Homo sapiens: one gene and its partner. Each later gene encodes a partner of the first gene's protein in a complex. Each region holds a gene or a part of one and is shown on either strand. Other genes may lie near its edges. The genes, in order: NET1 and RHOA.

Region 1 (16,236 bases):
GCTACTGTATGCTACATGGTTAGCAGGAGCCATCAGTGGGCACTGGCTTAAGAAAAAACAATTATGATGTCTCAGGTTATTTTAAATCTAATACAAATCTACATTACAAAGTGGCATTAACTGTGGCACTTAAAATATTCAGTAAATACTTCCTTTCAGGTTTAAGTATTAGGGAGCATTACAAAACCAAAGCTACTAATTTCTTTATTCCCTAGAAATGACCACACTAACCTCAGAATGCATTTGGCATCTAAAAGCTGGAAAGAAAAATGGTTCTTAAGAATTTTTAAAAGGTTAACTGGAAAAATATTTCCAATCATATGATAAAATTCTTTCCAGCAGTATCTGTAACCAGCTTTACAGTAATGCTATTTTTTCCCACTTCAATAACAAGATTCTATTTATTTTGAATACCCATGGAAAAAAGGAACCCAAAAAACAAACCGTGCCCACAAAGGATGTGAGACAGTGCCAACTTTCACAAATCTTGGAAAGACATATACTCATTTTTTCACAAGCGTCAGACTCAAAATGTAATAGCTATTTTAAATCCTTGTGGGGAAAAAAATGATTTCATAAAACATTAAGATTGCAAGTTATTTTTCCAGAGGATACACAGAATAACCTCCTAAAAAGGAGGGCTTAAAGGATGAAATGTAGAGCGAAAAGTGGCAGTCCACCTTTTCAAGAATTTTTGTCCATATATCCAATGTATTTTTCTATATATCCAAATAATTACAACATTTAAGGAATAAAATAAACTAATACATTAAGGAATTAGCTTAGTGTATTAAATTAAGTTCCCGATTTGACTCCTGTAGATTTTCCTTGGCCTTTAATGTTTTCCTTTCATATCATTTGGTATGTTTTTGAACAATGTATTTACACTAAATTAGGTTTAGTCTAAAGAAATCATAATTAAAATGATAAAGCTGCTGTTCAAAAGAAAAGCATCTTGTTAATTCATTCTTAAGCCAAATTATGTTTTCAGAGTTTCTGATTTGTGTCACCACCTCCTCCATCATGCCAGATAAGACCTGACCTGAAATTATAAATATTTTCAAAAAACGTATTGAAAATTACTATTACCAACAGGAAAAAAGCATTCTTAAAAGCATAATTTACCCTCAAGATGCATTCACCATAAAAAATGGATGTAGAATGAAAACGAGTTTCAGAAAAAGATTTTAAAAAGGATAATGTTATCATTTATTGGGTGCCTACTATGTGACAAGCACTGTACATATACTCTTATCCTAAAAATAACATTTTTTCCAATTAAATAAAAAATGTAATCTGTAAATGCCAAACATATAAAAAGAATTATACCATACATGTAAAAAGAATGGTATAATTTATCCTCTGCAGTTAACACTTTTTACATTTGGGGTGTGCCAAGCAACTGAGGTTCTCAATTTCTTTGCAAATCAGGCAAAAACAAACTAAATTATTATAGAAACAATTCATTTATTTGGGTCAAATATCTGATGTAGTAGACATCCACTACTGTTTTGGCTGTTCAGCATCTTTGCTATTAAGGAGTTGTCTCTTCTTCCACTTCTGACAATCATGTAGACTATGTCTCCTATCATACTAGGGTTTTCTCATCTGCATGAGAGTCTCAACTAATACATACATCTTGGAATATCTTGTCTAGAACACAGTTGAGCATCTAGAAACCAGCAAACACCACCCCCAAAGCACCCCAGACATCCTAATGTCCTGCATTAATTCTCAGGCCTTGCCCACAGCAGCAAATTCAGGGAAGAGGGAACAGGGGATAATGACAACAGCAAGTAACAGAAGGAAAGAGAAATTCTGAAGGCTTCCATCATTAACAATCCAGTACTCTTTGGAAACAGTGTGGCAATTCCTTAAGATGTTAGTGGTAAGTTTACCGTAGGACCTGATAATTCCACCCCCAAGAATTTACCCAAGAGGAGTGAAAACGTATGTCTACACAAAGACTTTTTTTTTTTTTGAGACGGAGTTTTGCTCTGTCACCCAGGCTGGAGTGCAGTGGTACGATCTCGGCTCACTACAACCTCCGCCTCCAGGGTTCAAGCGATTCTCCTGCCTCAATCTCCCGAGTAGCTAGGATTACAGGGGCACGCCACCATGCCCAGCTAAATTTTATATTTTTAGTAGAGACAGGCCATGTTGACCAGGCTGGTCTCGAACTCCTGACCTCAGGTGATCCACCCGCCTCGGCCTCCCAAAGTGCTGGGATTATAGGCGTGAGCCACCGCGCCCAGCCTACACTAAGACTTACATGCAAATGTTCATAGCAGCATTATCCATAAAAGCACCAAACTGGAAACAAATCAAATGTACAACAGCTGGTAAATGGAGTTGACAAAATGTAGTATATTCATATAATGGAATATGGTTTGGCAATAAAATGAAATACTGATGTAAGTGAAAGAAGGCAGAAGCAGAAAGACTACACATTGTATGATTCCACTTGTATGTCCTGAAAATAGAAATTTATAGAGCTAGAAAGCAGATCAGTGGCTGCCTAGGGCTGGGGTGGGAGCAGGGATATTTGGGGTGATGAAATGTTCTAACAATGGATTGTGGTAATGACTGCACAACTCTATAAATTTACTGATAATTACTGAATTGTTCACCTACAAAGGGTGAATGTTATGATATACAAATCATATCTCAATAAACTATTTAAAAACATAGTCAACTTATTTGGGACCACATGGCCTTACAAGCTTCTGTGAGCATGCCTTTTATTTTTGGCAACTACTACTACTAATAATAAAGATCCTGGGTTGTCAAGAATTGATTTAAGGCTATACCTTTAACTGGATATCCACTGTACAAATCCATCAATTAATTTTACTGGAAAAACAAAATTCAAAGAGTAAGCCTTATCACTGTTGGTAGATCATAGGTCATACTATTATTTTTCTACCAATGGACAGCATTATTTCAAATCTGCAAAAAAGGAAAATATAAAATCCTTAAAAGGATCAGTATGTATTTATATTTCTGCCATATGGGTGATATGTAAAGTTCTATGGCTTTCCCTAAGGCCCCGAAAGACAGAAATAAAATTATTTAAACATTACTTGTGTCCAATTTTCAGGACCTTAGACATAGGTACTATGAAGTGAGATTTAGAGACTAAGTAACTTGCCCAAGGTCCTTAAGAGCCAGAATTTGAACCTAGGAAGTCTGACTGCTTTTAATGCCTAAAATCTTTAAACGTTACTCTTTGTCTATGGGTTCTAGTCTAAAAGAATGTTAAAAGAATATACATTCTCAAAGGAGAAGACAGAAAATAATTAGGTAAATCAAAGCTGAGGCCAGAACAGACTTGGTATCAAAAAAACTAGGCCAGAAAAGCAGTCCTCGTTCTGAGCTCTCAATCATGTAGTATAACCTAGGGTTCTTTAGAAAGACCCTTGCTGGCCGGGCACAGTGACTCATACTTGTAATCCCAGCACTTTGGGAGGTCAAGGTGGGCGGTTCACGAGGTCAGGAGATCAAAACCATCCTGGCCAACATGGTGAAACCCCGTCTCTACTAAAAATACAAAAATTAGCTGGGCGTGGTGGCGCTTGCCTGTAATCCCAGTTACTCGGGAGGCTGAGGAAGGAGGATCACTTGAACCAGGGAGTCGGAGGCTACAGTGAGCCGAGATCGCGCCACTGCACTCCAGCCTGGCGACAGAGCAAGACTCCATCTCAAAAATAAATAAAAAAATAAAATAAAAAAGAAAGACCTTTGCCTACTACCCAGAACTGGGAGGTGAGGAGAAAGACGTTAAGAGGCCTGTCATATTGTAGGGAATATCTACATAGAAAACATAACTGCTGCCCCAGAGAAACTTGCACAGGTGTATAGAGGAGATGTATCAACAAACAACCTAAAATCCCAAATACATCTTATACAACATACCAAATATATTCCACCTGAGTTATAAAAATTGTATATTATAATATCTCACTGTACAGAATATCATAATGTATTTAGCTTCCTCCTCCTGTTTTTTCTAACCTTTCTACTACACAAATGTGCTAGGATATACTTTCTTGTACATACATCCATGTATACTTGCCCATTACTTTAAGATAAATTTCTGTGGGTAGAACTGCTTGGTTTAAATATTTGCATTAAAATTTTGTTTTATTTGCTATATTTCCCTTCAAATACACATAATGGGAATATCAGAAAGAGAGGAAAAGAGAAAAGAGCAGAAAAAAACTTCAGAGAAACAATGGCTGAAGCTTCTCCAAATTTATTGAAAAACAACCACCTACACATTCAGAAAAAGCTCAATAAACTTCAAGTAAGATAACACAAAGATATCCACAGACAGACACATCATAGTAAAAATGGCAAAAGTTAAAGATAAGAAAATCTTAAAAGCAGCAAGAGAAAAAAACACTTGTTATTTACAAGGAACCCCAAAAAGATTCTGACTTCTTAACAGAAACAATGGAAGACAGAAGCAGTGTGATAACACATTCAAAGTGCTCAAAGAAAAAGAAAATTTCAGCAAAGAATCCTATACTATCAAAATTATCTTTCGAGAATGAAGGAGAAACAAAGACATTCCCATAAAAACAACAACAACAACAACAACAACAACAAAACAAAGAAAAAAAACAAACAGAGAATTTGTTGGTAGCGGACTTGCCTTACAAGAAATACCATAAGAATTTCTGGCTGAAAGCCAGTGACCACAGACGGTAATCTGAGTTCACATACAAAACCCAAAAAAGCCTAGTAAAAGCAGTGTCAATGAAAAAAATCAGTAAAGAAATTCAAATGCTATAAATTAGAAAATTCTCACTTAATGCAAAAGAAAGCAATAAAGGAGGAATAGAGAAACAAAAGACATATATAACACGACAAAATGGCAGACATAAATCCAACTATATCAATAAATAACGTTAAATGTGATTGGAGTAAACAACCCAATCAAAAGAAATGGACAGCCAGACAGGATCAAAACCAACCAACCAACCAACCAACCAACCAACCAACCAACCAAGATCCAACTATATGCTGTCCACAGGAGACACACTTTAGTTTCACAGATATAAACAGCTTGAAAATAAAGGGATAAACACGTATCATGCAAACAGCAAGCCACAAGAAAGCTAGAGTAGCTATATTAACATCAAACAAAATGGCCTTTCAAAGAAAAAAATGTTACCAAAGAGGGATATTTTATAGTGATAAACAGATTGATCCATCAGGAAGATACAATTACAAACATATGTGCATATAAAAACAGCACAATCTCAATAAATGTAAAAGGATAGAAATAATACATAATACAAAGTGTATTTTCCAGCTGCAATGTAATGAAATTAGAAAAAATTTGTGAAAGTCACAATTATGTGGAAATTAAACAATTCATTCCTAAATAACTAATGGCTCAAAGAAGTCAAAAAGAAATCAGAATTTGAGATTAATGATAGTGAAGACACAATATATCAAAATTTATGAGATGCAGCTAAAGCAATGCTCAGAGGGAAATTTATAGCTGTATCCCTATATTAAGAAAAAGATCTCAAATCAGTAACTTAATCTATAATCATGACACTGGAAACAAAAAGGGCCAACTAAACCTAAAGCATGCAGACTAATCTGAGCAGATTACTCAGATTACTAAGCAGGAAGAAGGAAACAATAAGGATTAAAGTGAAAATAAAACAAAGAATAGAAGAACAAAGAAAATTAATGAAGCTAAAATCACATTCTTTGGAAAGATCAAGATTGACAAGACTGTAGCTAGATTGACCATCATCATAAAAAGAAAGAAGACACAAATTACAAGAATCAGAAATAAAAGAGGGGACATTACTATTGACATTACATGAAAAGGATTATAAAGAAATACTATGAACAAGGAAGGGTACACCAACAAATTAGATAACTTTGATGAAACAAATTCCTAAAGAGATACAACCTACTGAAACTGACTTAATAAGAAACAAACTATCAGAAGACACCTACAACAAGAGATGAGATTGAATTAATAATAATAATAAACTATCCACAGAGAAAAGTCTAGGCCTAGGTGGCTTTACACTGAATTCTACCAAACATTGAAAGAATACCAATTCTTCACAAACTCTTTCAAAAAAAACAAAACAGTAGGGAATACTTCTTAACTGATTTTATGAGGCCAGTATTATCCCAATACCAAAACCAGACAAGCATAGTACAAGATAATAAAACTACAGATCAATATCTTATGAATATATATACAAAAATATTCAACAAAATATTAACAAAATGGATCCAACAATATATTTAAAAAAGCTATACACAATGACCAAGCAGGACTTATACCAGGAAGGCAAAGTTGGTTTAACATCCCAAAAAATCAATTAATGTAACACATCAGTAATAACAACAACCACATGATCATTTCAATAGACAAAAGAAAAAAAACCCTAAAACCTTTCATGATAAAAACCACTCAAAAACTAGTAACAGAATGGAACTTCCTCAACCTGATAAAGGACATCTACAAAGCTTACAACTAACATCATACTTAATGGTGAAAGATTGTATGCTTTCCCCTTAAGATCAGAAACAAGACAAGAATTTCCCGTCTCTCCACTTCTGTTCAGCGTTGTACAGGAGGCCCTACCCAGGGCAATTAGGAAAGAGAAAAAAGTAAAGGGCATCCAGAGATTGGAAAAAGAAGTAAAACTATTTTTATTTGCTGATGACATGACCCTGTACACAGAAAGTCCTAAAGAAACCACTAAAAAACTATTAGAACTAATGAGCTCAGCAAGGTAGCAGGATCCAAGATCGATATACAAAAATCAATTGTATGTATTCCTATACAATTGAAATTATTAAACTGAAAATAAAGTGATACAAAGCGGGGCAGGGAAGTGCTGCGTAGAGGAGAGCGTGGTCCCTTGCTAGGGCTCCATCCCCAGGCCTGGGCCCACGGACCTAAGTGAGGATAGGCATTTCTGTTTTCCTACCCAAATGTTGCATTTCCCAAGACCACCCTGGCTCACCACACCCCCATCCTGTGCCTATAAAAGCACGCCCCCACCTGTGCCTATAAAAACCCCCCGAGACCCTAGCAGGCAGACACACAGGTGGCTGGATGTCAAGAGGAACACATCGACGTGGGAGTACACCAGCACGCTGGCAGGCCAGCTGGCAGGCCATCGATTCGCAGAATGACGCAGAGCTTGGCCAGGGAGGTTGGAGGAGAATCGGGCAACCTGACACCAGGGCAAAACCATTTCCCTTCTGGCTCCCCCATCTGCTGAGAGCTACTTCCACTCTATAAAAGCTTGCAATCATTATCCAAGCCAACGTGTCATCTGATTGTTCCAGTACATCAAGGCAAGAACCCTGGGATACAGAAGGCCCCCTGTCCTTGAAATAAGGCAGGGGTCTAACTGAGCTGATGAATACAAGCCGCCTACGGATGGCTAAACTAAGAGTACCCTGTAACACAAGCCCACTGAGGCTTCAGCTGTAAACATTCACCCATAGACATGGCTATGGGGTTGGAGCCCCACAGCCTGCCTATCTATATGTTCCCCTAGAGGTTTGAACAGCAGGGCACCGAAGAAGCGAGCACACCTCCAGTGCACGCCCTGCGAGGGGGAAAAGGGAACTTTTCCCATTTCAAAAGAAATGAATCCATTTACAACTGCATCAAAAAGAACAAAATACTTAGGAATAAATTTAGCAAAACATGCAGAACTATACTCTGAAAACTACAAAACACTGTTGAAAATAATTAAAGATCTAAATAATTGGAAAAACATCCCTTGTCCATGGATCAGACTACTTAACTCTCTGTAGAGGGCAATACTCCTGAAAATGATCTACAAGATTTAATGCAATCTCTATCAGAATCCCTGTGGACTCCTTTGTAAAAATCGATTAAGCTGATTCTAAAATTCACATAGAATTGCAGGAGACCCAGGATAGCCACAACAATCTTGGGAAAAAAAGAACAAAGTAGGAGGACTCACATATCCCAATTTCAAAACTTACTATACAAAGCAACGGTAATCAAAACACCATGGTAATGGCATAGGGCTATTACATATAGATCAAGAGAATAAAAGTCAAAGTCTAAAAATAAACTCTCATGCTTAAGGTCAACTGATTTTTGACAAGGGTGCTAAGACTACTCAGTGGGAGAAAGAACAGTCTTCAAAAAATGGTGCTGGGGTACCTGGATAGACACATGAAAAAGAATTAAGTTGGACCGTCATCTCACATTATATACAAAAACTAACTCAAAATGGATTAAAGACCCAAATATAAAAGCTAAAATGATAAAATTCTCAGAAGAAAGCACTGGGGAAAGGATTCATAACAATGGATTTAGCAGTGATTTCTTGGATGTGACACCAAAACACAGGCAACAAAAGCAAAAATAGACAAGTAGGACTACAAACTAAAACATTTTTGTGCTTCGAAGCACATCATGAAAGTGAAAAGACAAACCACAGAATAAGAGAAAATATTTGCAAATAATCTATCTGATAAGGGACTTGTATCCAGAATAAAGAACTCTTAACAACTCAATAAAAAAGAAATTTAAAAATGAACAGGGCCAGGTGCGGTGGCTCACGCCTGTAATCCCAGCACTTTGGGAGGCCGAGGCAGGCAAATCACAAGGTCAGGAGTTCAAGACCAGCCTAGCCAACATGGTGAAACCCTGTCTTTACTAAAAATACAAAAAATTAGCCACACGTGGTGACACATGCCTGTAGTTCCAGCTACTTGGTAGGCTGAGGCAGGAGAATCACTTGAACCCGGGAGGCGGAGGTTGCAGTGAGCCGAGATCATGCCACTGTACTCCAGCCCCGGTGACAGACTGAGACTCCGTCTCAAAAGAAAAAAAAAAAAGAGCAAAGGATGGCCCACCAAAAATGGCCACACACATTACATAAATCCATTCATATGCAATGTCCAGAACAGAGAAATTCCTACAGACCGACAGATTAGGTTTTAGGGCAGAAGGGGTAGGAGAGGAACAATAGCTAAAGGGTACAAATGCTCTTTTTGAGGTGATGAAAATGTTCTAAGTAGTACAATTTAAGTGGGTAAATTGTACTGTACGTATTTGTCTTTCAAATTAGTTTATACTGAGTTTTGCCTGCAGAACGTTTTTCAATAGTCACATAATCATACACACAAATCTTTTTCCTTATGATTTCTGAATCTGATACAGTGCTTAGTTGCTTCTTGCCTCACAATTAATACTATCTTGTAATATTTTACGTATTCTTGTAGATGATCTTACATCTTTTCTGGAAAAGGAATATGTTATTTAATTCTCCATTTTCTCTCCATGGTTCTTCTAACTGTGTCTCACTCTCCTCATGCTGCCTGTGTTACTACGCTTTTCTCACAATGTATCATTTCCTACCTCACACAAAAAATAGAGGCCTGGTGGGAAAGTCCTCAAATTCCTGCTCACAACACACCCCATTCTTCAAAACTATATATCATCCATAGCTTCTTGTTAGGCTAAATCCTCTACCTTGAATTTGGATTCTGTCCTTTTCTGCCTTCTTGGATCCTTGTTCAACCATTTTTCTCCTCTACTGTCTGTTCAACCTCTCCCTCTATTTGTTAACTCAGCACAGCACATCAAGGGAATTTATTCTTTCTTAAGAGTCTATCCCACAAAATTGTGTTATTTCTCTCTATTCTTTCTTGTCTTCCTGTTGCAGTGAAACTTCTCTTCACCAATCCCATTGCCAGCTATCAGATTCGAACAATCATTTTTTCATTTAGACTACTGCAGACTGATTTCCTACCAATCCATCAGCTAAACTTGGAAATTTTAATTTGGTATACACAGCTGGGTCCACAAATCTCCTGAAATGTTTATGTATATGTGCACATTTTTGGGGAATAGTTTTCATAAAATATGAAGAGTGAGATGACTCCAAAATGTTGCTTATTTTTCTCATGGAAGGCAAACTGATCTTTTAAAATGCAAATATGTCATGCCATTGGCTCATTTAAAGTCTTTCAGTATTTCCCCATTACCATGAAGATAAAACCCAAACTCTGTCAAGGCATACAAGGTCTCTTCATGATGTGGCGCTTACCTCTTTAGCATCATCTCTCATGACTACCTCCTCCTTCTCCCCATATTGGTTTCCTCTCCTCTATACAAATATCACTGTTAATATAGTAATAAAATAGAATATATACCCAGAACTCATCAGACTCATTTGCTTCAGGGCCTTTCTACATGCTTCTCTGCCTGAAATCATCCATTTACATCTGCTCTCTAAACTGGTCCTTAAAGACTCAGGGATTACAATAGGAAATCATTTCCTATTCTCTCCAGTCAGGATTAAGTGTTCCTTTTAATCTACGGCATTCTGTGTATATCACTATAATAACTTTTATCACATATTATAATAATTATTAACCTACTTATCTTTCTTCCCCACTAGATTATAAATCTTAAATAGTAACAAGAGTATTTTTCCATTTCCATATTCCTAGTGTTGGCACTCACATTATTTTCTGAACAAATCGCACATTCTCTTCTCAACCTGTTGCAAAACACTCTAAGTTCGATATTGTAACCATTCTTGGAAACCATCTAAGATCAATACTCTCTTCTCATTACCAAATTTAATTTTCATTCCTCATCTAGCTTAATCCTCATCTTATTTTACTTAATCCTCATTTTATTTGACCTATCAATAACATCTGACATAGCTCGCCACGTCCTCTTCTTGAAATTCTTTCTTCATTTGGCCTCCTGGATACTGTTCTCACTTGGTTCCCTTCCTCCTAATTCACTAGCTATCCCCTGAGCTTCGCTTTGTGAAATTTCACTGAGCCAAACACGAGTCATACACTCTCATTTCAATGTATACTTCCACAAAAAGTAAAAAGAAAAAACACGAAAATGGTTGTGATGAACTCTCTAATAGGCATCTCATAACATATCCCGAAGTCAACTTATCCCTTAGTCTTTTCTTTCTCAGGACATGGAAGCCCATTCTCGTGGTGCTCACCATGACAGTTTCGGTCTGAGCAAAGGCATTTGGGAACGCCAGCCTACAGCCAGTTGGGTGTGCAGAACAAAACCATTGTGGTTTTTCCTAAGTCTCCCCTGAGAAACAGTCAGGAGGCGAGGAGACTCAATAAACCCGCCCCTTTGCCACAGGCAGGGAAAATCGCAGTTTGGGGTCTCAGGACCGACCTCGGTCCAAGGCCAGGCACACTGTCACTCCAGCCTGTGCCACCCTCACTTCCAGCGGCCCCCGTCCCCCCCCCCAACCCCGCGGTCACCTCCCCCACCCCCCACTCACCTCCCAGCGGCCCTCGCCTCCCCCTGGCCCTCACCAACACCCCCACTCGCCGCCCCCCACATCCAACTCCCGGCCAGCCCTCCCCTCCCCCCGGCCCTTGCCTCTCCAACACTCACCTCCCGTTCGGCCCTCCGCTCCCCTACACTCACCTCCCGTTCGGCCCTCCCCTCCCCCACACTCACCTCCCGTCCAGCTCCGACCCGGAGGTGTCGGCCGAAGGCCCCGTCGCTCCCTCCGTGCTGAGCCCAGAGGCCCGGCGGCTTCGCCTCCGCGGTCGAGGCTGCTTCTGAGCCGCCAGCTCGGGCTCCATGGCACGGAGGAGGGGGTGGGGCGGTGGCCGGGTGCCCGGGAGACCGGCAGGGACGGGCACGATGCCCGCCAGCCTCTGCCAGGCAGAAAGCGCCTGTCAGCGGACTGCAGCCGCCACCGCCGTCATCCGGGGATTTGAAAATGGCGGCTGAGCAGCGATCAGCCAATCAGTGAGCGCGCAGCGGTTCCTAGGAGACGTGGAGTCCCGCCCCTCCACCGCTCCCGGGATCTACTTGCCTAGGAAAGAACCTAGGAAAATTTGCCCTTAACTCCTGAGCGCATCCCTGAGTCCCTAAGGCCCGGTACCTCCTTCATTGTTCATTAGGACTTTCACTACAGGCCAAGGCAAATGGACTGGAAGCATTTTAATTCACCAGATCTTTCTTAGCATTTGAGGAGAAGAGAGGTCCAAACTAATGACCTGTAAACAAGGCATGTTTATTGGCCATATTCACACTGAATTATTGTGCACGTGGCCAATATGAGATATATTTCCAATTACCAAAGGTTATGCAAGTGTGTTCCCGGGACTGTCTCTAGGGAACCAGCAAAATCTAATTATGAGCCCTTATGTCTTCCAATAAGCATGACACAGTCTCTCCCTAGCAAAACAGAATGAAGTGACTTCATCCTTTGCTTGTAAAAGTCAGCAAAAGACATAATATAAAATAAAAGACCGCTTCAAGTAAAAAAAAAATTGTTAAACAAATTACACTTTCTTTGATTTTAAATATTGCTTTATATGTGTCAAAGTCTTTAAAAATAGCTTCTCCTGACCGGGCGCTGTGGCTCACGCCTGTAATCCCAGCACTTTGGGAGGCTGAGGCAGGCGGATCACGAGATCAGGAGATCAAGACCATCCTGGCCAACATGGTGAAACCCTGTCGCTACTAAAATACAAAACTTAGCTGGGCAGAGTGGCGCATGCCTGTAATCCCAGCTACTCAGGAGGCTGAGGCAGGAGAATTAGTTGAACCAGAGAGTCGGAGCTTGAATTGAGCCAAGACCGTGCCACTGCACTCCAGCCCAGTGACAGAGCGAGACTCCGTCTCCAAAAAAAAAAAAACAAAAAAACACTTCTCTTTTGCCAGTATATTTCCACTTATGGAAATTTATCCTAAAAAATAAAATTATATAAACATGAAGCTATTAATGACATTGTTTATAATAGAAACATTTAAAACAACCTAAATAAACAATGATTTATAGCTCATCCACTGAGAAGAATATTTTCAGCCAACAAAAATGAAGTGTGAAGTATGTAATAGTATACTGGTAATTTGAAATAAAAACATGAAGTATAGAGGTATATTCAGTATATTCAAAGTTATGAATTACAAGAGATTATACAAAGAAAAAAGATAATGTATTAAAATGTATTAAATGTATTAAAAAGTCAATGTATTAAAATGTCTCTAGGTAGACTTTAGGTATTCAAAATTTTTATTTTTATTTTTTGCATTTAATTTTTTTAAAAATAAGGACATATTGAATTTGCAGTACCTTTATAACATGAGGGAAAAATGTTTTTGTTTTAAAAAGAGTAAGAAATTAGGGAGTAACATTGAGATGTGAAGCCAGCTAGACTTCCTGGGTAGAGTGGGGACTTGGAGAACTTTTCTGTCTGGCAAGAGGATTGTAAAACACACCAATCAGTGCTCTGTAGCTAGCAAGAGGATTGTAAAATGCACCAATCAGTGCTCTGTAAAAAGCACCAATCAGCAGGACCCTAAAAGTAGCCAATCACAGGGAGGATTGAAAAAAGGGCACTCTGATAGGACAAAAATGGAACATGGGAGGGCACATATAAGGGAATAAAACCTGGCCACCCCAGCCAGCAGGGCAACCCACTGGGGTCCCCTTCCACACTGTGGAAGCTTTAGTTCTTTCACTCTTTACAATAAATCTTGCTGCTGCTCACTCTTTAGGTCTGTGCCACCTTTAAGAGCTGTAACACTCACCATGAAGGTCCATGGCTTCATTCTTGAAGTCAGCGAGACCATGAACCCACCGGAAGGAACCAGCTCTGAACATAAGTTGACCTTGGTCAAGAACCACTTCTGTTCTACCTTCCCCATCCCTCCCCAAAAATTAAAGAAGAAAGTACTGCTTTGTAGCAGTTAGAGTGTAAGAATACAGAAATGTTCTTAATATTTGGGGAGTTGGTCTCCACCAAGACAGAGCTTCAGAGGATGCAGATGTTTAGATTATGAACAAAAATAAACCTGTAAGAGCAATTCTTCAAGTCAGGTCCCAAGTAGGTCACAACTACTCTGTGTCCAGAAAACTCACACCCCTTTGGGATTTTCACAATTTACCCGAATTGACCAATCAGGGCTCACCTGATGTAACCGATCAGAACTCATCTGCTTTATCCAATCAGGGTTCAGCTGTATTACCCAATCTGAACTGAGCAAGTCTGAATCTTTCCTTTGCATAAACACATCTGATTGGAAACCTGGACAAGAACTTTTTCTATAGAAGCCAAACCCTCCCCTTTATTCTCTGGAATCACCTTTCTTTTACTCCGAAGGCTGTGTCTCCCTGGTTTGCAAACTGTTCACTAGAATAAAGTCTCCTTTCTCCAAACTTCCTTTTCAGAGAACTTTTGTTCACAAGATAGGACCATGTGAATCGCTGACGCTTGGTCTTTTTACCCACAGAAACAGCCGTTTCATATTAATAGTTTCAACATACTTCGGTGAGATCCTCAGAATTCAGGGTCTGTCCTCAGCTTTGCAGGTCCTGAAACTGGTTTTGATTGTGTCATCAGAGGTGGTCAGTCCTTTGGTAACTTGTAATAACTACTCACAAAATGATAGATACTGCAGGATGTCAATGTGGGGATTCCAGTGGTGGGGGTGGGCACTTCTTTCCAGTGACCTGAATACTATTGTTTTATGCAGAGCAACTGTTTCCAATTTTCATTCACTTGAGAACTTATGATTTTGTTCAATTATTCACAAGAATTTATTAAATTCCTGCTATAATATGCCAGGATCTGTGCTAGACATTAGGGAAATAAGGAATAGAAGACAAATTTTCATCAGAAAATGGCTGGGTACCATAGAAGAAGAGCAAAGAAAAGTGACCGCTCTGAGGGTTGGTCATTGAAGACCTGGGAAAGGCTGGTGACATCTCTTGATCTTACAAGAGATCAACTTTCTGGTGTCTGAATGCCATTGTCCCCATGTTCTATGTCTTACACTGTATAGAACAGTCCCAAAACCATGACAAATGTTCTCTGAATCCTCTCTCTTTCAGTTCCCCACAAATCATCCTTCTCCCTTAAAATATTCACCGGGATAGGGTTTGAGGAAATTGTTTTGATTTCAGCTTTCATATATATAAAATCAGACTCTAGAACTCCCTCTCTGAGAAGATATTCCTACTAACTTGACTAGAGCAAAGTGTAACCCAAACTTTTTCAACCATGGATTTGCAAAACAAATATTCTTTTGGGGAACTTCCTCAAAGATTATTTCCAAAACCTTCAGCCCTATGTGATGACACCAATCATTTTGCAAGTTGATATTAAATAAATTCAACAATCAATAAATGAATGTAAATTATTATGTAAATCAATAATTTAAAAACCTATTTTCTTTCATTATCTAAGTAAATCAAACTATTTTTGCAAAACTGCTTACCAAGTTTTATATATATATATATATATATATGTATATATTAGAGTACAAAGTGTTCATCAAAACACTTTATTAATTTCCAAATTATTTGATGATTTTGATGTGATATTTTGTTTGCCATTGCTATCACTAGCTAAATGATTCCCCTTTGGTCTGTAGGCTCCCATAGAAAAATGTAGCAAATTTGCAAACAATGACCTACCATTAGAAAACTAGTAGTCTTAATAACTAGAGAATTGCCCTTTGCATCAACGTTTTTCTTTTTTGTCTGAATCTTCTCATAGCTTCTCATGAACTAACAGCAATTACATTCAGGAGAATGAATGTCTGTATGTGTGCATATACATATAATTTATATATAGAATGTTATAATAAAGTCTGAAATTTTTAAAAATATATTTACTATATCTACTATTGATTAATTTACAAAACTGTTTATTAGACTGTAATTTTTAATTGGGTCAAACTTAATTGTTCCTGCCAAATGAAAGGGAGTGTAGTCCAACAGCTAAGTATGTGGACTGCATTGATTGTCATTCTGACAAGCAGAAGTGTACTTATAGGCACAATAGGGCAGAATATTTGAAATCAGGTTTGTCATCCCTTAAAATCTATCACTGTGTGTGTATGTGTGATGTGGGGGGAGGTTGTTTCATTTTTTGCCTCAATCAGTCAATCAATCAATCAATCATCTATGAATCATTTGTTTACCATATTGGTTTACTCTTAGGTATTCCAATGAGGAAAATGGAAAACTCCAAAATCTAGCTGTTGAGCTTAGAGAACAATAAAATTTGAGATGAAATATGTGTGGCCAGAGAAGGTGCTATTAATCCAAAGTAGACTGTAATTCATTTTTCTTAACGCTTAGACTATCTTCCTAAAGACATTGCAGGTCTAAAAGACTGATTTATATTAGTAGTAGGAGAGGAGAACAGAGGAGGAAGGAGAAAGGGGTTTCAGTG
Region 2 (16,611 bases), on another chromosome or scaffold:
ATTAGTGGGTGGGCCAGGGGCTGTGAATAACATCATCCTCAGTACAGCTGCAATTCCAGGGCCCCTCTACCACAAAGATGGCTTAAGCAAAGGCAGCCAGATGGAAGTATGATATCCAACAGGAAGGAAGTAGGCAGGGGTCACTAAAGTGGCTGGTGGCCCAGCAGATGGAAACAGAAGTATGGCCCCGAGGGAAGGAGGCAGGTCCAGGGCTACAGTGCTTTCAGGTACTGGTGTTTCTATAGGGGCATTTGCCACCCACATCTTTGGAAACTCCCCTGGCCTATTGTGACATGGCAGGGCTGCCTGGTTCTTGAAGGTAGAGAAAATGCTAGTGGGGAGGAGCTGAGCCTGTGACGTGCATTTGTACCAGGTCCAGATGGGAAATGATGAGGCTGCAGGCTATGATGGGGCCACTGTGCACTAAATGCTTGGTACCATCCTATGAGGGGACAAGGTGCAGACCCACATTCCCATAGGCACTTAAGCAGTGGTGGATAGGAGGCTACCCCAGGGGTTCAGCTGTCCTTCAGGTAATCAGCTTACCCCCAAGAAGGACTGAGAGGAATATGAGTAGGACAGTTGGCAGATGACAATTTCCTTTGCCTGGCTCACGGGAGAAGTCTGGTTGGGCCAGGTATGTGGGTGTTTGGTGCCTCCATCTGGATAGTGCCAGCAGGTACACCACCCTGCCTTATACCTGAATGGCCAGCTAAATAACCATAGAGCTTAAGGTCTGGCTCAGGTCAGGATTCCCTGGCTCCTTGCCAACAAAGCAAAACCAGAGATTCAGAAAACTCAGGGCCTAGGAGAAAACAGACCTGCCTTACAAACCCCAGAGCTGGTCAACCTCAGGCTTCCTCTCAGGAAAAAAATTTTTTTTTTGAGATGGGTCTTGCTCTGTTGCCCAGGCTGGAGTACAACGGCGCAATCTTGGCTCACTGCAACCTCTGCCTCCCAGGTTCAAGCAAATCTCCTGCTTCAGCCTCCTGAGTAGCTGGGATTACTGGTGTGTGCCACCACACCCGGCTAATTTTTGTATTTTTAGTAGAGATGGGGTTTTCACCATGTTGGTCAGGCTGGTCTCGAACTCCTGACCTCGTGATCTGCCTGCCTCAGCCTCCCAAAGTGTTGGGATTACAGGCGTGAGCCACCATGCCTGGCCAACTCAGGAAAAATTTTTATGGGGTCACATCTTGGGGATGGAAGAGGGACAGGAAAAGAAACCTAAGACAAAAGAACTGATGGTCTTCCCAACCCAGAGGCTTCCTGAGTTATCACCCCTGAGAGAGGAAGAACACAATCTCTCTCCTTAAGGCACCCAGATAAGAGTACAGGCAAACTCTTCACTTGCCCAGTGCCTGGGTGAGGGAGCAGGCTTAAGAGGCAGAAGAGGCCCAGCCCTGTAGGCACTGGGTACTCCCTGCTACCAACCCTGAACCCCCGGCAGTTGTCCCTGAGGTCTGGGGAGTAGCAGAACCCAGTGTAGAAGCCAGCAGACCCAGTGATGCCCTTGGAGACCCTCTGCTGCCTTCCCTTATTCTCTGTGGGTTTTGAGAGGTTCGTTTGCTGCCATTTCCCTGAAAGTGATGGAGAGAGAGAAGAGAGAGTGGTTATTCCATGGGCAGAACAGTTGCTGAAATTGGCTCTCCCAAGCTCCTTCTTGGGGGCTGAGCTAGGCTCAGTAAGGTCACATAACAATCTAGACCTCTCTGCTGGTCTCCCACAGCCCACCCTGGGCCCAGCACCTTCTCCCTGCAGACTCATTCTTCTTCCTGGTTCTCCATGTTAGTACGGCATTGCCATCCTTCTCTAGTTTTTTTATTCTTTTTATTTATTACTATTGTTATTACTTTTCTTTTTTTGAGACGGAGTTTCACTCTTGTTGCCCAGGTTGGGGTGCAATGGCAAGATCTCAGCTCACTGCAGCCTCCACCTCCCGGGTTCAAGCAATTTTCCTGCCTCAGCCTCCCAAGTAGCTGGGATTACAGGCGCCCGCCACCACACCCAGCTAGTTTTTGTATTTTTAGTGAAGACGGGGTTTCGCCATGTTGGCCAGGCTGGTCTCAAACTCCTGGCCTCAGGTGATCTACCCTCCTCAGTCTCCCAAAGTGCTAGGAACAGGCGTGAGCCACCATGCCCGGCCTGTTATTTTTTTTGAGACAGAGTCTCACTCTGATGCCCAGTCTGGAGTGCAGTGGCGTGATCTGGGCTCACTGCAACCTCTGCCTCCTGGGTTCAAGTGATTCTCATGCCTCAGCCTCCCGAGTAGCTGGGATTACAGGCGTATGCCACCATGCCCAGCTAATTTTTTCTATTTTTAGTAAAGACGGGGTTTCCCTATGTTGGCCAGGCTAGTCTCAAACTCCTGACCTCAAGTGATCCGCCCATCTCAGCCTCCCAAAGTGCTGGGATTACAGGCATGAGCCATGGGGCCTGGCCTCTTCTCTAAGACAGAAACCTGGGCAGTGGCAGCCTTTCTAACCTCTAGCCCTAACTCTTGGACCCCTTTATCTACTTGCCATGAAGTAGGCATTTATAAAGGCAAATTAGATCAGACCACAGCCTTGCTGAGTTAGTCTTTCAATGGCTCCCAGGGTCCAACAAGCTCTCACGTTCAAGCTCCAGCATCACAGTCTTACCTATTCTAATATGTCACCCGTATTCTTCCCTCTTAGCCTTGCTCAATCCATTCCCTTTGCTTGGTACACTTTGTCACCCTGTGGCATTTGATCTCGGCTTAGGTGTCTTTCTTGGGAGAAGCCTTCCCTGACCACCCTTGCCCCATGCACTGCCGCCCTCCCCTAATAAATCCCTGGCTCCCCATGAGCAGGGCCCGGGTTGTCTTTGTTCTCTGGGCCTCGTGTGGCCCCTATCACGTGATAGGGGCCCAGAGATTATCTGAATGAATGCCCTGATTAGTGAGCGCATGTTTTGCAGAAGAGGAGGCTGACCCTGATGAGGTCAATGTGCTCAGGACAGAGATTACTGCCTTCCCAACTGAGGGGATTGTGCAGAGTGGAATCCAACAAACCTGTCATTTCATCTCTCTGAAATTATGACAATACCACCACCTATCCTACAGGCTGCTGAACAGCATGATGATGGACTGTCCAGACCTTGGTGTCACCCTAACTTGAAGCCTGAGCTCTACGTGCAGACTTGAAGCTTGCTGCAAAGGCCATTAAGCTGGTGGGCTTAAAGCCTGAGAACTCCCCTCTCTGTCACCAGCACAGGAGTGTCCTTGGAATGCCAAGCATGGGGTTGCGGTATGGACAGATTTACTCACCACGAAGGGAAATGCGTGGAGCCATCAGGCGTGGATCCATTCTGACCACCCAGACCTGGAGGCAGAAACACATCCAGAGCTGCAGAAGGCTGGGGTGGGAATCTGAGCAGGCATCAGCCCAGGTCAGGTTAGAGACCACTGGTATTGTTTGGTGAAGTCTGGTGAGGGTCCTAAGGGACTAATGGTATTGCCAGGTGAGAGTTCTGAGGAACAGATACAATGTGATGGGTGGACTGGTGGGGATTCTGGCGTAAAATGGTATGGTGGCATGAGTCAGGGCACAACGTTAAGTTCTCCCATCCAAGTACCTGGCTTAGCTTCCGAGGTCAGATGCGTTCAGGGTAGTAAGGCCGTGAACCAATGTTAAGTTCTGATGAGCCTCTTGCAGGATAGTGGGGAACCCAATGGTACAGTCGGGAGAGGGTGGGGGCGGGGGCGGCCAGCCCACGGAGGTTCGTAGGAAGCCTCACCTGGACGGTGATACAACCCGGTCACTGTATTCCCGTAGAACCCCCACGCCAGCTGGATGCCCAGGAGACTTAACACCAACCACAGCAGCAGCAGCTTGAAGAGGGTCACGCGCATGTCCTGCGCCTCCCACTCCCGCAAGAACTCGCTGCCCAGCGCGCCCAGCACCGTGGCCGGCAGAGCCTGCAAGGCCTGCCCAGACCAGGACTCCGCCATGACTGGCCCTCGCCCCACCCGGGGTACTGTCACCGTAGTCCCCACCACGCACGCGTGTGGTCTTCCGGGACCAGGCCCGTTAGTGCGCACGCGTAAACCCAGCCAGGGTGGGGCCTACTTCGCGTGCGTGAAGAGTTGGCAGTTCGGGGAGGAGTATTAAAACCGCGCACGCGCACCTAACCCCACCCTGCTTGCTTAAGGGATGAGTGACTCCGGGAGTACAAAATAGCAACCAGGTCTTTTATAGCCCCGGAGTTCCCGTGATGCCCCACGCGGCTGCAATGATTGGTTAAGGGTTTTGCTTTTAGGGCGTGGACGGGCTCCTGAGCAATAGTGGATGAGCTGTGAGTGCGCGCGCGTGCGCGGGGCCGCGACCTGTGCCGGCTCGAGCCCGCTGGGCACTCGGAGGCGCGCACGTCGTTCCCCGCCCTCCCGCCGCCGCCCGCCCTCGCTCTCTCGCGCTACCCTCCCGCCGCCCGCGGTCCTCCGTCGGTTCTCTCGTTAGTCCACGGTCTGGTCTTCAGCTACCCGCCTTCGTCTCCGAGTTTGCGACTCGCGGACCGGCGTCCCCGGCGCGAAGAGGCTGGACTCGGATTCGTTGCCTGAGGTGAGCGGAAGGGTTCCCTCCAGGCGCCGCGGGGCCCCAGGCCCGCCAGCCCGGTACTCTTCCGGCCGGCAGGCCGCCGCACCGCCGCGGCCGCGCCCCACCGGCTGCTCGTGGCCGAGCCGCCCCTGGCCCCTGACCCTTGACCTGACTCCCAGCCCGGGCCCCGCGCCCCAAGCGGCGACCCCGCCCGCGCAGTCCCCGGAAGCGCGCCCGGTAGTCTCCTGTGCCCCTTCCCCCGCCCGGCCGGGCCTGGTGGAGCCCAGGCTGCCCGCCTGCCCGCCCTCGGTCCCCGGAGCTTCCTCTCCCAGCGGCGCCGGGCAGGGCGGGGGCTTTGGGCCGGGCCCCGCGACCGCGCAGTGTAGCCGGCCGCTGAAAGCGCGCGTGGCTGTCGGAGTTGAAATGGGAAAGAAACTCTTTACAACTCCATTTTGCTTTTTACGTTTAACGAGAAACGACAATCACTGTTTCATATTGATTAAAGTCCAGTTACACTTTGGGTAGGTTTTCTTTTAATGCAGACTTGTTGGAGACTGTGTAAGTAAGTAAAAGATTGTATTGAACGCTTAGGGGTATGATCTACGGCCATACCACCTGGAACGCGCCCGAACTCGTCTGAAAGCTTTGGGGTCTGTTTTGAGTGGAAAAGGGGTATTTTCCATTTGGAAAAAAAAAACAACACACAAAACTGTAAATGATTTAAGCGATGTTGCATGAAAATAGATGCAATGTTGCTTAGTCGAAGTCGCTGTATTGATTAGGAATGATCTAAATATCTGTACCTTAGTTACTGATTGGATCTACAGTTACGGGTCGTCTTCATTGAATAGCGCTATTCGCATCCAAGTTGATTTGTTCACAAACCTTGTTTAGTAGTTTACGGTGGAAAATTGGAATCCTTTTTACCTCAAAGTTGGTTCCACTTGTGTTTTTTAATAGTTCTGATTTTAAATTTTTACCTCTGTTGTTGACTTGTTTGGTTCTGTCTTGAAGAAAGTCTTAAACGTTTCTTGCAGGTGTGTAAGTAGATATTTCACTCTGCCTTTCTGAAGGAGAAAAATTGAAAAACCAAAAAACTTCCATAATTTAAAATGTTGTATGTGGAGAGAATTTTTCAACCACTTAGTATCACCCAGATGTGTAATGTGTACCATGCGGATGATTGTCACCTTAGATGTGGCTAGATTGGCGGAGATACTGTTTTGAGCATTTGGCACAAGTGACATTGGACTGAAAAACTAGTTTTTAATTGTAAAGAATGACTTATTGAAGGATCTCTGGATAACTTGTCTTAATTGGTTCCATCTACTTTTGTGGAGCACTGATGGCTCTTGGGGACATTAAATATATAAGGTGCACCTTGGTTTGAGTTAAAGTCTAGTGCTAGATTTATCCTCTCTGTTCTCATAAAAATCTGTGTTGGAGGGAAGAAGAGAGTAGGAATACTGTGTAGTTCTTGAGTTTTAGATCTAAGAGGAATCTTTCAGGACTGGTTGTCCAACCCCATTTGCAGATGAGCAAACTGAGTCCCAGAGACTTAAGTAAATTTCCCAAGGTTACCTATCTAGTCAGGAGCAGACCAGAACTGTCTGCTCTGTTAAGGTATTCTCCATTTACTCCCAAGCAGTTGGCCTCCAGAGTCAGCTAAAATTCAGGACTTCTAGCTTATTCCATTGTTTCTTCTTTTAAACCTTGTTGATGGTGAATAGTTTGGGAGAAACTGTTCATTTGCCAAAAAATTTCGGTTCATTAGCTTACACAGCACTCTCCCCTTGTTAACTGGATGGTCCTGCCTTCAATTGAGGGAGATAGATGAATGTACGAGGGTCCCTGGTTGGCCTAATCATGGCTTTGTTTGGATTTTTTTTTAAGGGACCAACTTCTAGAGCAAGGCCTACACTTTACTGCTTCAAAACCAAGATATTTAGGTCAGGCTAAGATATTTTTAGTTAACTGTGGGCACTTTTGACTGTTGATTTGGGGTACTGCGTGTATCAAGTAAACAATTCCCTGTGCACATGCATGTGGTGGTGGTGGAGTATTTTCGTAGTCCTGATTTCTTTCCATTTGTCAGTTAACTGCTTTTTAAAAGTTTATTCTGGTCATATGGGGGTGTAAGTTATTAGGAGAGTAAAAACAGGTAGCTCTTCAGGTGTTTCTTGTCCATGGGGTGGAGTCCATGCAGTGACTGGAGAAGGTGCTAGTTTGCGTCTTTTTAATTGTCTTAGAGAGCTGAGAGATATATGTTAACTCTGAGAAGAAAGACTGATCAGCTTCTAAGAGAGCTAATTTGAAGCTGCTGGCCTTCTGTAGACAGCACCTTGGGTTTAATTGCATTGTGGTTACTAGTGATTATGATAAATAGTACATAGTCACTGGATTTTAAAATTGGCCATATAGTTGTAGTTTTATATTTATTTTTATTTTTGAAATGGAGTCTCACTCTGTTGCCCAGGCTGGAGTGCAGTGGCGCGATCTCAGCTCACTGCACCGTCTGCCTCCTGGGTTCAAGTGATTCTCCTGCCTCGGCCCCTGGAGTAGCTGGGACTACAGGCACCCACCACCATTCCTGGCTAACTTTTGTATTTTTAGTAGAGATGGGGTTTCACCGTGTTGGCCAGGCTGGTCTTGAACTCCTGACCTCAGGTGATCCGCCTGCCTTGGCCTCCCAAAGTGCTGGGATTACAAGGGTGAGCCACCACGCCCACCCATATTTGTAGTTTTAAAAGGATCCTGGCAGGGCGCGGTGGTTCATGCCTGTAATCCCAGCACTTTGGGAGGCCGAGGCGGGCGGATCACGAGGTCTGGAGACCATCCTGGCTAACACGGTGAAACCCCGTCTCTACTAAAAATACAAAAAAAATTAGCTGGGTGTGGTGGCGGGCGCCTGTAGTCCCAGCTGCTCTGGAGGCTGAGGCAGGGGAATGGCGTGAACCCGAGAGGCGGAGCTTGCCGTGAGCTGAGATCGCGCCACTGTGCTCCAGCCAGGGCAACAGAGCGAGACTCCGTCTCAAAAAAAAAAAAAAAGGATCTTAAGTATTTTGTCTGACTCTGCCATTTAGTTTATTCCTTTGTTTACCTGCCCAATGGAACTGTTTGCTTGTAACTACACATTAATATAACTAAATTTTGAACTTAATGTTACATGCCTTGCTATACATGGGGCTCTTTGGGGACATGCTCATTTGTGGGATTAAAATTTCCAAGACGGTTTGAAGTTTGTAATTACTATAAAATCCCTCATCTTTAATCTGTGGAGCTGTAGTATTAAGTGAAGGCCTTGGTATGTTCATAATTACGATAGTCATGTGACTGAAAATCAGGCACTGAAGCTGCTCGTTCTGGGTGTTGGTCTCAGTTTATTGATGCTTCATCCAAATACATTTTTATAGCTAATAATAAAGAAAAACATCAAATACTCTTGCTAAATTGCAATCAGTATGCAGTTTATGCCAAACTTAGCTTGATTTTATTTTTTGAAGAGGATGAGTATGTATATTTAAGCATATGTGTGTGTGTGTATATGTATATATACTTGTGTATACGTATATACGTGTATACGTATATATATGTGTACATATACGTGTATACGTATATATATGTGTACATATACGTGTGTGTATGTGTGTGTGTATATATATATATTTTTTTTTTTTTCTCTTTTGAGACTGAGTCTCACTCTGTCGTCCGGGCCAGAGTGCAGTAGCGCCATCTCGGCTCACTGCAACCGCCGCCTCCTAGTTCAAGTGATTCTTGTGCCTCGGCCTCTGGAGTAGTTGGGAGTACCAGCATGCGCCACTGTGCTCAGCTAATTTTTGTATTTTTAGTAGAGACGGGGTTTCACCATGTTGGTCAGGCTGTTCTCGAACTCCTGGCCTTGTGATCTGCCCCCCTTGGCCTCTGAAAGTGTTGAGATTGCAGGTGAGAGCCACTATGTCTGGCCATATTTAAGCATATTTATGATAGTATCTTAAATTTAAGTGAAGGGAAAGAGGAAAACATACACAGCCAATGAAGTAAGTTTGAAGTGGAGTGAAAGGAAAAGTTGGAGGTAAAAAGAGGTTAGAGAGGTGGGCAGGGGCCAAATCATATAGGGCCTTTAGGACATGGGAAATTCTTTGGATTTGTTCTGAGATTAGAAGTCATTTAGATATTCTTTAGAAAGGGAATGACATGATCTGATATTAAAAAAAAAACTAGAATCACTGTGAGTAGGAGTAGATCTAATTCCATTCTGACTAAATAGTAAACTAATATGATAATTTGGACAAATATAAAAAGGAATTCCTGGCTGGGAGCAGTGGCTGATGCCTGTAATCCCAGCACTTTGGAAGTGCTGGGCAGGTGGATCACTTGAGGTCAGGAGTTTGAGACCAGCCTGGCCACATGGTGAAACCCTGTCTCTACTAAAAATACAAAACATTAGCTGGGCGTGGCAGCAGGCGCCTATAATCCCGGCTATTCAGGAGGCTGAGATAGGAGAATCACTTTAACCTGGGAGGCGGAGGTTGCTGTGAGCAGAGATCGAGCCATTGCACTCCAGCCTGGGAGACGGTGCAAGACTCAAAAAAAAAAAAAAAAAAAAAAAAACGGAAAGGATTTCATAATATTAATTTCCTTGACTTAGTGACTTCTGCCTATTTTATTTGAAGTCATTGGTTCTTCTCTTCTCTTCTCTTGAGACAGGGTCTCACTGTCACCCAGGCTGGAGTGCAGTGAGTGATCTTTGTTCACTTCAACCTTTGTTTCCCAGGTTCAAGCGATTCTCGTGCCTCAGTCTCTAGAGTAGCTGGGACTACAGGTGTGTGTGTGTGACCATGCCCGACTAATTTTTGTATTTTTAGTAAAGACGGGATCTCACCATGTTGGCCAGGATGGCCTTGATCTCTTGACCTCGTGACCCCGTGACCCACCCACCTTGGCCTCCCAAGGTGTTGGGATTACAAGCATGAGCCACTAAGGATTTGTTTTTAAAATTTTTTTGCTTTATTTTTTTCTTCTCTTTTTTTGTACTAGAGATGGTGTCTTGCTATGTTGCCCAGACAGATCTTGTACTCCTGGGCTCAAGTTGTCCTCCTGCCTCAGCCTCCCAAAGTGCTGGGATTAAAGATGTGAGTCAAGCGATTCTCGTGCCTCAACCTACCCACTAGCTCGATTACAGGTGCCATCCACCACCTGCCCACCACCCTTGGCTAATTTTTGTATTTTGTATTTTAGTAGAGACAAGAATTTTACCATGTCGGCCAGGCTGGTCTCAAATTCCTGACCTCAGGCAATCCACCCGCCTCAGCTTCCTGCTGGGATTACGGGCGTGAGCTACCCTGGCCAAGATTTTTAATTTCTGAAGCTTATAGCTGCTCTAAAGCACAAGGATTCAGTCCCATGATTTAAAAAAGTTGCTTGTTTTGACTTCAAGTATATGGTTGAGCATTCTAACTTTTGTTATGTATACATTTTTATTTTACTGTATTCTTCTAGCCATTGTATCCTAGTCTGTATGTTGCAGATGAGTTGTGATTCTCTGGTGTCTCTTCCATGGACCTAGAGATCATATGCTCTACTACTGGGATTTTTTTTTGTAACTTTGTTTGGGATATAGGCTTTGAGAGGTTAAGGAAGTAAATTTAAGATGGATATTTAATGTTGTAACACTTTGTTAATGCTTTTTTCTACAAGATAATTTTATTATGTGATATGGCAGCTTTGTTGGAAATACCTGTTTTTTTGTGTGTGTGGAAAATTTCTTTTCTGGATGAAATCTCTTGTTTAACTTTTCCAGTTATTCATAATGAAGCTCTGTTTATCTTTTGAAGATCTTAAGTTCAGAAACAGAAGGCAGGCTGCGTATGGTGGCTCATGCCAGTTATCCCAGCACTTTGGGAGGCCGAGGTGGGTGGGTCACCTGAGGTCAGGAGTTCGAAACCAGTCTGACCAACATGGTGAAACCCCATCTCTACTAAAAATACAAAAATCAGCCGAGTGTATTAGTGAGTGCCTGTAATCCCAGCTACTCGGAAGGCTGAAGCAGGAGAATCCCTCGAACTTGAGAGGCGCAGGTTGCAGTGAGCCAAGATTGCTGCACTCCAGCCCGGGCAACAGAGCGAAACTCCGTCTCAAACATACACACAAAAAAAAGAAGGAAAGAAAAGGCAGTAGAGTATCTTATTTAAGAGCATGGATTCTGGAGAGAAACTGACAGTTAAATACTAGCTCTGACACTTGATGGCTTGAGACCCTTGGCAGTAGTATGTCTCCTTTGTAATTCAGTTTTTTTCTTCTGTAGAAAGGGAATGGTAAGGAAGCGCCATGAGATTTCAGTGAGAGAGAAGCACTTACCTCAAGTGCCAGACATGTAGCCCTTCAACTAACTTATTTTATTTATTTATTTTTTGAGATGGAGTTTTGCTCTTGTTGCCCAGGCTGGAGTGCAATGGCGTGATCCCAGCTCACTGCAACCTCCACCTCCTGGATTCAAGTGATTCTCCTGCCTCAGCCTCCCCATTAGTTGGGGTTTACAGGCATGTCACCATGCCCAGCTAATTTTTTTTTTTTTTTTTTTTTTTTTGAGACACAGTCTCGCTCTGTCACCCAGGCTGGAGTGCAGTGGCGCGATCTCGGCTCACTGCAACCTCCGCCCTCCGAGTTCAAGCAGTTCTCCTTCCTCAGCCTCCTGAGTAGCTGAGACTACAGGTGCCCGCCACCACGCCCGGCTAGGTGTTTTTTTTTTTTGTATTTTTAGTAGAGACAGGGTTTTACCGTGTTAGCCAGGATGGTCCCGATCTCCTGACCTCAGGTGATCTGCCTGCCTCCGCCTCCCAAAGTGTTGGGATTATAGGTGTGAGCCACCGCGCCTGGCCTACTTTTTTTATTATTTTTTTTTTTGGAGACAAGAGTCTCGCTCTGTCGCCCAGGCTGGAGTGCAGTGGCGTGATCTCGGCTCACTGCAAACTCTGCCTCCCGGGTTCATGCGGTTCTCCTGCCTTAGCCTCCCAGGTAAACTGGGACTACAGGTGCATGCTGCCACGCCTGGCTAATTTTTTTTTTTTTTTGTATTTTAGTAGAGACGGGGTTTAACCATGTTGCCCAGGCTGGTCTCCATCTCCTGAGCTCAGGCAATCTGCCTGCCTTGGCCTCCCAAAGTGCTAGGATTACAGCCGTGAGCCACCGTGCCTGGCCTTCTGGCCTTTTTTTTTTTTTTTTTTTTTTTTTTTGAGACGGAGTCTTGCTCTGTTGTCTAAGCTGGAGTGTAGTGGCACAATCTCGGCTCACTGCAATCTCTGCCTACCAGGGTGCAAGCGATTCTCCTGCCTCAGCCTCCCAAGTAGCTGGGACTACAGGTGCGTGCCACCATGCCCGGCTAATTTTGTGTGTGTGTGTGTGTGTGTGTGTTTTACTAGAGACGGGGTTTTACTTTGTTGGCCAGGCTGGTCTTGAACTCCTGACCTTGTGATCCACCTGCCTTGGCTTCCCAAAGTACTGGGATTACGGGTGTGAGCCACTGCGCCTGGCTTTTTTTTGGAGAGATAAGGTCTTGTTTTGTCATCTAGGCTGGAGTGCAGTGGCACAGTCATAGCTCATGGTGGCCTCCAACTTTTGGTGTCAAGGTATCCTTACGCCTCGTCCTCCCTAGTAGCTGGGACTACAGGTGTATGTGCCACTGCGCCCAGCTAATATTTTTACATTTTGTAGAGATGGAGTCTTGCTGTCTTGCCCAGGTTGGGTCTCAGACTCCTGGGCTCAAACAGTCCTCCCACCTCAGACTCCCAAAGTGCTGCAAGTACGGGCATGAGCCACTGAGTCCAGCTATCTTCAACTTTCACTATTCAGGTTACAGTTTGTAGTACCTTTTTTCGGGGGTGGTGGGAGGGTAGTGGGAGTAGCACCCTAAGATTTCTTGGAATAAAACAGGGCTTACTACTTGGTTCCTGGTACTTAAGAACAGTGGTTCCTAGACTCCACTGTTCCCAAACTTGGAATCCAGTTCCCCAAATTGGAATCACCTGAGGTTTAATTACCTTCATGGAGGTTTAATTTGCATACAATAAAATGCACATACTTTAAATGATAGTTTGATAATTTTTTTGTTCTTATTTTTTTTAGACATAGGGCCTTGTTCTGTCACCCAGCTGAAGTGCAGTGTCGGAATCATGGCTTACTACATCCTCGACCTCCTAGGCCCAAGAATTCTCTGCTTTAGCCTCCCGAGTAGCTGGGACTGCAGGTGTGCACCACCACGCCTGGCTACATTTTTATTTTGTAATTTTTTTTTTTGTAGAGAGAGGGGTCTCACTATGTGCTCAGACTGGTCTTGAACTCCTGGCCTTAAGTGATTCTCTCGTCTCAACCTCACAAAGCCCTGGGATTATAGGCATGAGCCACCACAAACCGCCAGTTTGATAAATTTTGATGAATGTGTATACCCAAGTAATTGCCACTCAGTCGAGTTAAAGAGCATTTCCTCAAGGCTTTAAATTTTTATTTTTATTTTTGAGACGGAGTCTTATTCTGTCATCTAGGAGTGCAGTGCCGCAATCTTGGCTCACTGCAGCCTCTGCCTCCCGGGTTCAAGTGATTCCCCTGCCTCAGCCTCCTGAGTAGCTGGGACTACAGGTGCGTGCCACCACACCCAGCTAACTTTTTGTATTTTTAGTAGAGATGGGGTTTCACTCTGTTAGCCAGGATGGTCTCGATCTGATCTTGTGATCCGCCTGCCTCTGCTTCCCAAAGTGTTGGGATTACAGGCGTGAGCCACCGCGCTCGGCGGGTTTCTTTTTTTTTTTTTTTATGAGATGGAATCTCGCTCTGTTGCCCAGGCTGCAGTGCAGTGGCACGATCTCAACTCACTGCAACCTCCGCCTCTCGGGTTCAAGCGATTCTTCTGCTTCAGCCTCCCGAGTAGCTGGAACTACAGGCACCCGCCACCACGCCCGGCTAATTTTTTGTGTTTTTAGTGGATACGGGGTTTCGCCATGTTGGCCAGGCTGGTCTCAAAGGCCTGACCTTGTGATCCTCCTGCCTCGGTCTCCCAAAGTGCTGGAATTACAGGTGTGAGCCACTGCTCCTGGCCTAAAGTTTTTTAGACTAGTTTTTTTGTTCATTCGTTTTATTTGCTTGGCTTCCTAGAATATGACAAGTTTTGGTTTGTTTTTGAGACAGAGTCTTGATCTGTTTCCCAGGCTGGAGTGCAGTGGTGCTATCGTGGCTCACTGCAGCCTCTAACTCTTGTGCCCAAGTAATACTCCTGCCTCAGCCTCATGAGCATCTGGGACTACAGGCAAGCACCACCATACCTAGTTAATTAATTTAATTTTTATAGAGATGACGTTTTGCCATGTTGTCCAGGCTGGTCTCTAACTCCTGAGCTCTGGCCTCGCAAAGTGGTGGGATTATAGGTGTGAACCACTGCACCCGGCCTAGTTTTTTATTTTAAGAAATATATATACTTGGTAAAAGTAAACTCCTGCAATAAGGTTTACAATAAGCATATATAAATTCTTAGCCAGCTCACTGGGAGGTACCTAATGGTTCATTTTTCTTTGTCAGTTTTACTAGATACGCATTGTCTTAGAGGCAATGTAAGTTTGGAATTAGGCCAAACAAAGTCAAATCCTGATTCTGTGCATCCATTGAAGGTTAACCTTATAATATTTACATTTTGAGATAAATGATTTCATGCTCTTATTTAGGAAACTTGACGGTATGTTACCTCAGGGATTGTTCCTTGCCTGTCTTTCCCCAAAGAACTTGAGTTTGAAGTGATTTTCACTTGGCAGTAAATTGAAGGTTTTCTTCATTGCTTACCACCATGTGCCTTATTCCTGCTGCTCTTGATCTCCAAGTGCCCTTACTGCTACAGAAAGGAAAGCTCTTGAACTAAGAGCTTGGCAGCCACTTGATCAGGATGGCCAAATAATGGCAGTACAGGTTGAGCATCTGAAATGCTTCAAGATGGGCGCTGGCATGACATTCAAAGGAAATGCCTAGTGGTGCCTTTCAGACTTTCAATTTTTGGATTTGGGATACTGAACCAGTAAGTATAATGCAGATATTCCAAAATCTGAAGAAATTCTGAAATCTGAAACACTTCTGGGCCCAAGCATTTTGGATAAGCAGTACTCAACCTATACCAGGCTCAAGTTCATTATGGACAGATGGATGGATGGTAGTTTGGCCCTTTCATCAGGAATTTCCCATGCAGTCAGTAAACAAAATAAACAGCTCTATGTTTTCAACTTCATTTCCCCAATTTTTTTTTTTTTTTTTTGAGACAGAGTTTCATTCTTGTCGCCCAGGCTGGAGTGCAGTGGCCCGATCTCCACTCACTGCAACCTTTGCCTCCCAGAGGTTTCGCCATGTTGCCCAGGCTGGTGTCAAACTCTTGGGCTCAAGTGATCCATCCGCCATGGCCTCCCAAAGTGCTGGGATTATAGGCATAAGCTACCTTGCCTGTCCGTTTTCATATTTTTTTGAGAGATGAGGTCTCACTGTATTGCCCAGACTGGTCTCCACCTCTTGGCTTCAAGCAGTCCTCCTGCCTCCCAAAGTGCTGGGATTGCAGTTGTGAGCCACCACACCTGGTCAGGAGTTTTACATACTATGCGTTGTTACTTGTAGGTCTTGTTTGGAAAGAAGTAACTTCCTAAGGTCAATTCAGAAAAGAAGGGTAGTAACTTAGAGGAAGTAAATTTGAAGGCCCTAGTGTCTAATATTAGTAATTTGGGCTTTTGAAAGTTTCCTTTCTAAAAGGTAGGAAATTAACTCTTTTTTTTTTTTTTTTTTTTGAGACGGAGTCTCTGTCGCCCAGGCTGGAGTGCAGTGGTGCAATCTCAGCTCACTGCAAGTTCTGCCTCCCGGGTTCACGCCATTCTCCTGCCTCAGCCTCCCGAATAGCTGGGACTACAGGCGCCCGCCACTATGCCCGGCTAATTTTTTTGTATTTTTAGTAGAGACGGGATTTCACCGTGTTAGCCAGGATGGTCTTGATCTCCTGACCTCGTGATCCGCCCGCCTCGGCCTCCCAAAGTGCTGGAATTACAGGCGTGAGCCACCGTGCCCGGCTGGAAATTAACCCTTTTATATACCATCCCCCCACCTCACCTTTTTGGCTACAATCTTGCTCTGTCACCCAGGCTGGAGTGCAGTGGCATGATCATAGCTCACTGCAGCCTTGAACTCCTGGGCTCAAGGGATCCAGCTACCTCAGCCTCCTGAGTAGCTAGGATTACAGACGCATGGCACCAAGTCCTGATACAGTCTTCTCTGTACCAGAACAAAGTATTCAGTGATTCAAGCTCACATAGGCATGAAACAGCACTGAAAGACGAAGTGCTGTAGGAGTTCAGGGATAAAGAAGAATTTAGAGTAGCCAGGAAGCCACTGAGGCCTCTGGTGGTGAGGGTGTAACTCTTGGCCTTTAAAATGAGGTTTAGGGGAAATGTTATGAGTAGTGGGAATCAACCCTTGGCCTGAACACAGATAATCTTGTTTTATCTCCTTATAGAAACAGGAGGTGGTGGGGGGTGGCCAGTTTTGGTTAGACTAGGGAAGATGTTGGGGGAGAGGGGGGCAGTATGCTTCTGTAGTTTCGTTTTTTTTGTTTTTTTTTTTTTTTGAGATGGAGTCTCGCTCTGTCACCCAGGCTGGAGTGCAGTGGCGCGGTCTCGGCTCACTGCAAGCTCCGCCTCCCGGGTTCAAGCGATTCTCCTGCCTCAGCCTCCCGAGTAGCTGGGATTACAAGCACGTGCCACCATGCCCAGCTAATTTTTTTGTATTTTTAGTAGAGACGGGTTTCACCTTGTTGGTCAGGCTGGTCTCGAACTCCTGATTCGCCCACCTCGGCCTCCCAACGTGCTGGGATTACAGGCGTGAGCCACCGTGCCCAGCCGTTTCTGTAGTTTCTTGAGTTCAGATTCCAAGATGGATTTTTGCATATGTATTGCTTTATTTCTTACCCCCTTGATGTAATCTACTATATAAATCTTTTAAAGTCCCTACATTTAAAAATTTATCTTGTTCGAAAACATAATAGTTTTAT

What was found.
Region 2: the proteins of NET1 (region 1) and RHOA are in contact, whole or in part, in a crystal structure (PDB 4XH9), measured with the Homo sapiens proteins. Residues at the interface, in NP_001040625.1 of Homo sapiens: Glu177, Ala178, Glu181, Gln270, Leu271, Lys274, Lys281, Gln291, Leu294, Glu295, Arg300, Lys301, Leu302, Asp303, Trp305, Ser306, Asp309, Arg312, Ser313, Arg314, Val316, Lys317, Leu320, Leu321, Glu324, Gln347, Leu350, Ser351, Ile353, Asn354; in NP_001300870.1 of Homo sapiens: Arg5, Lys7, Tyr34, Pro36, Thr37, Val38, Phe39, Glu40, Asn41, Tyr42, Val43, Asp45, Glu54, Trp58, Ala61, Gly62, Gln63, Tyr66, Asp67, Arg68, Leu69, Arg70, Leu72, Ser73, Pro75, Asp76, Pro96, Thr100, Pro101, Glu102.

What each region holds. Positions count from the first base shown.
Region 1 is NC_000010.11:5,408,082-5,424,317, reverse strand, and holds the start of NET1 (neuroepithelial cell-transforming gene 1 protein), read right to left. Parts: upstream 11,762-16,236; 5' UTR 11,626-11,761; coding exon 11,498-11,625; intron 1-11,497. UniProt on the Homo sapiens protein: Acts as a guanine nucleotide exchange factor (GEF) for RhoA GTPase. May be involved in activation of the SAPK/JNK pathway Stimulates genotoxic stress-induced RHOB activity in breast cancer cells leading to their cell death.
Region 2 is NC_000003.12:49,399,789-49,416,399, reverse strand, and holds the start of RHOA (transforming protein RhoA isoform 1 precursor), read left to right. Parts: upstream 1-4,423; 5' UTR 4,424-4,580; intron 4,581-9,593; exon of another isoform or gene 9,594-9,688; intron 9,689-16,611. Other genes in the region: TCTA (T-cell leukemia translocation-altered gene protein), read right to left, coding at 1,538-1,580, 3,290-3,344, 3,760-3,973. UniProt on the Homo sapiens protein: Small GTPase which cycles between an active GTP-bound and an inactive GDP-bound state.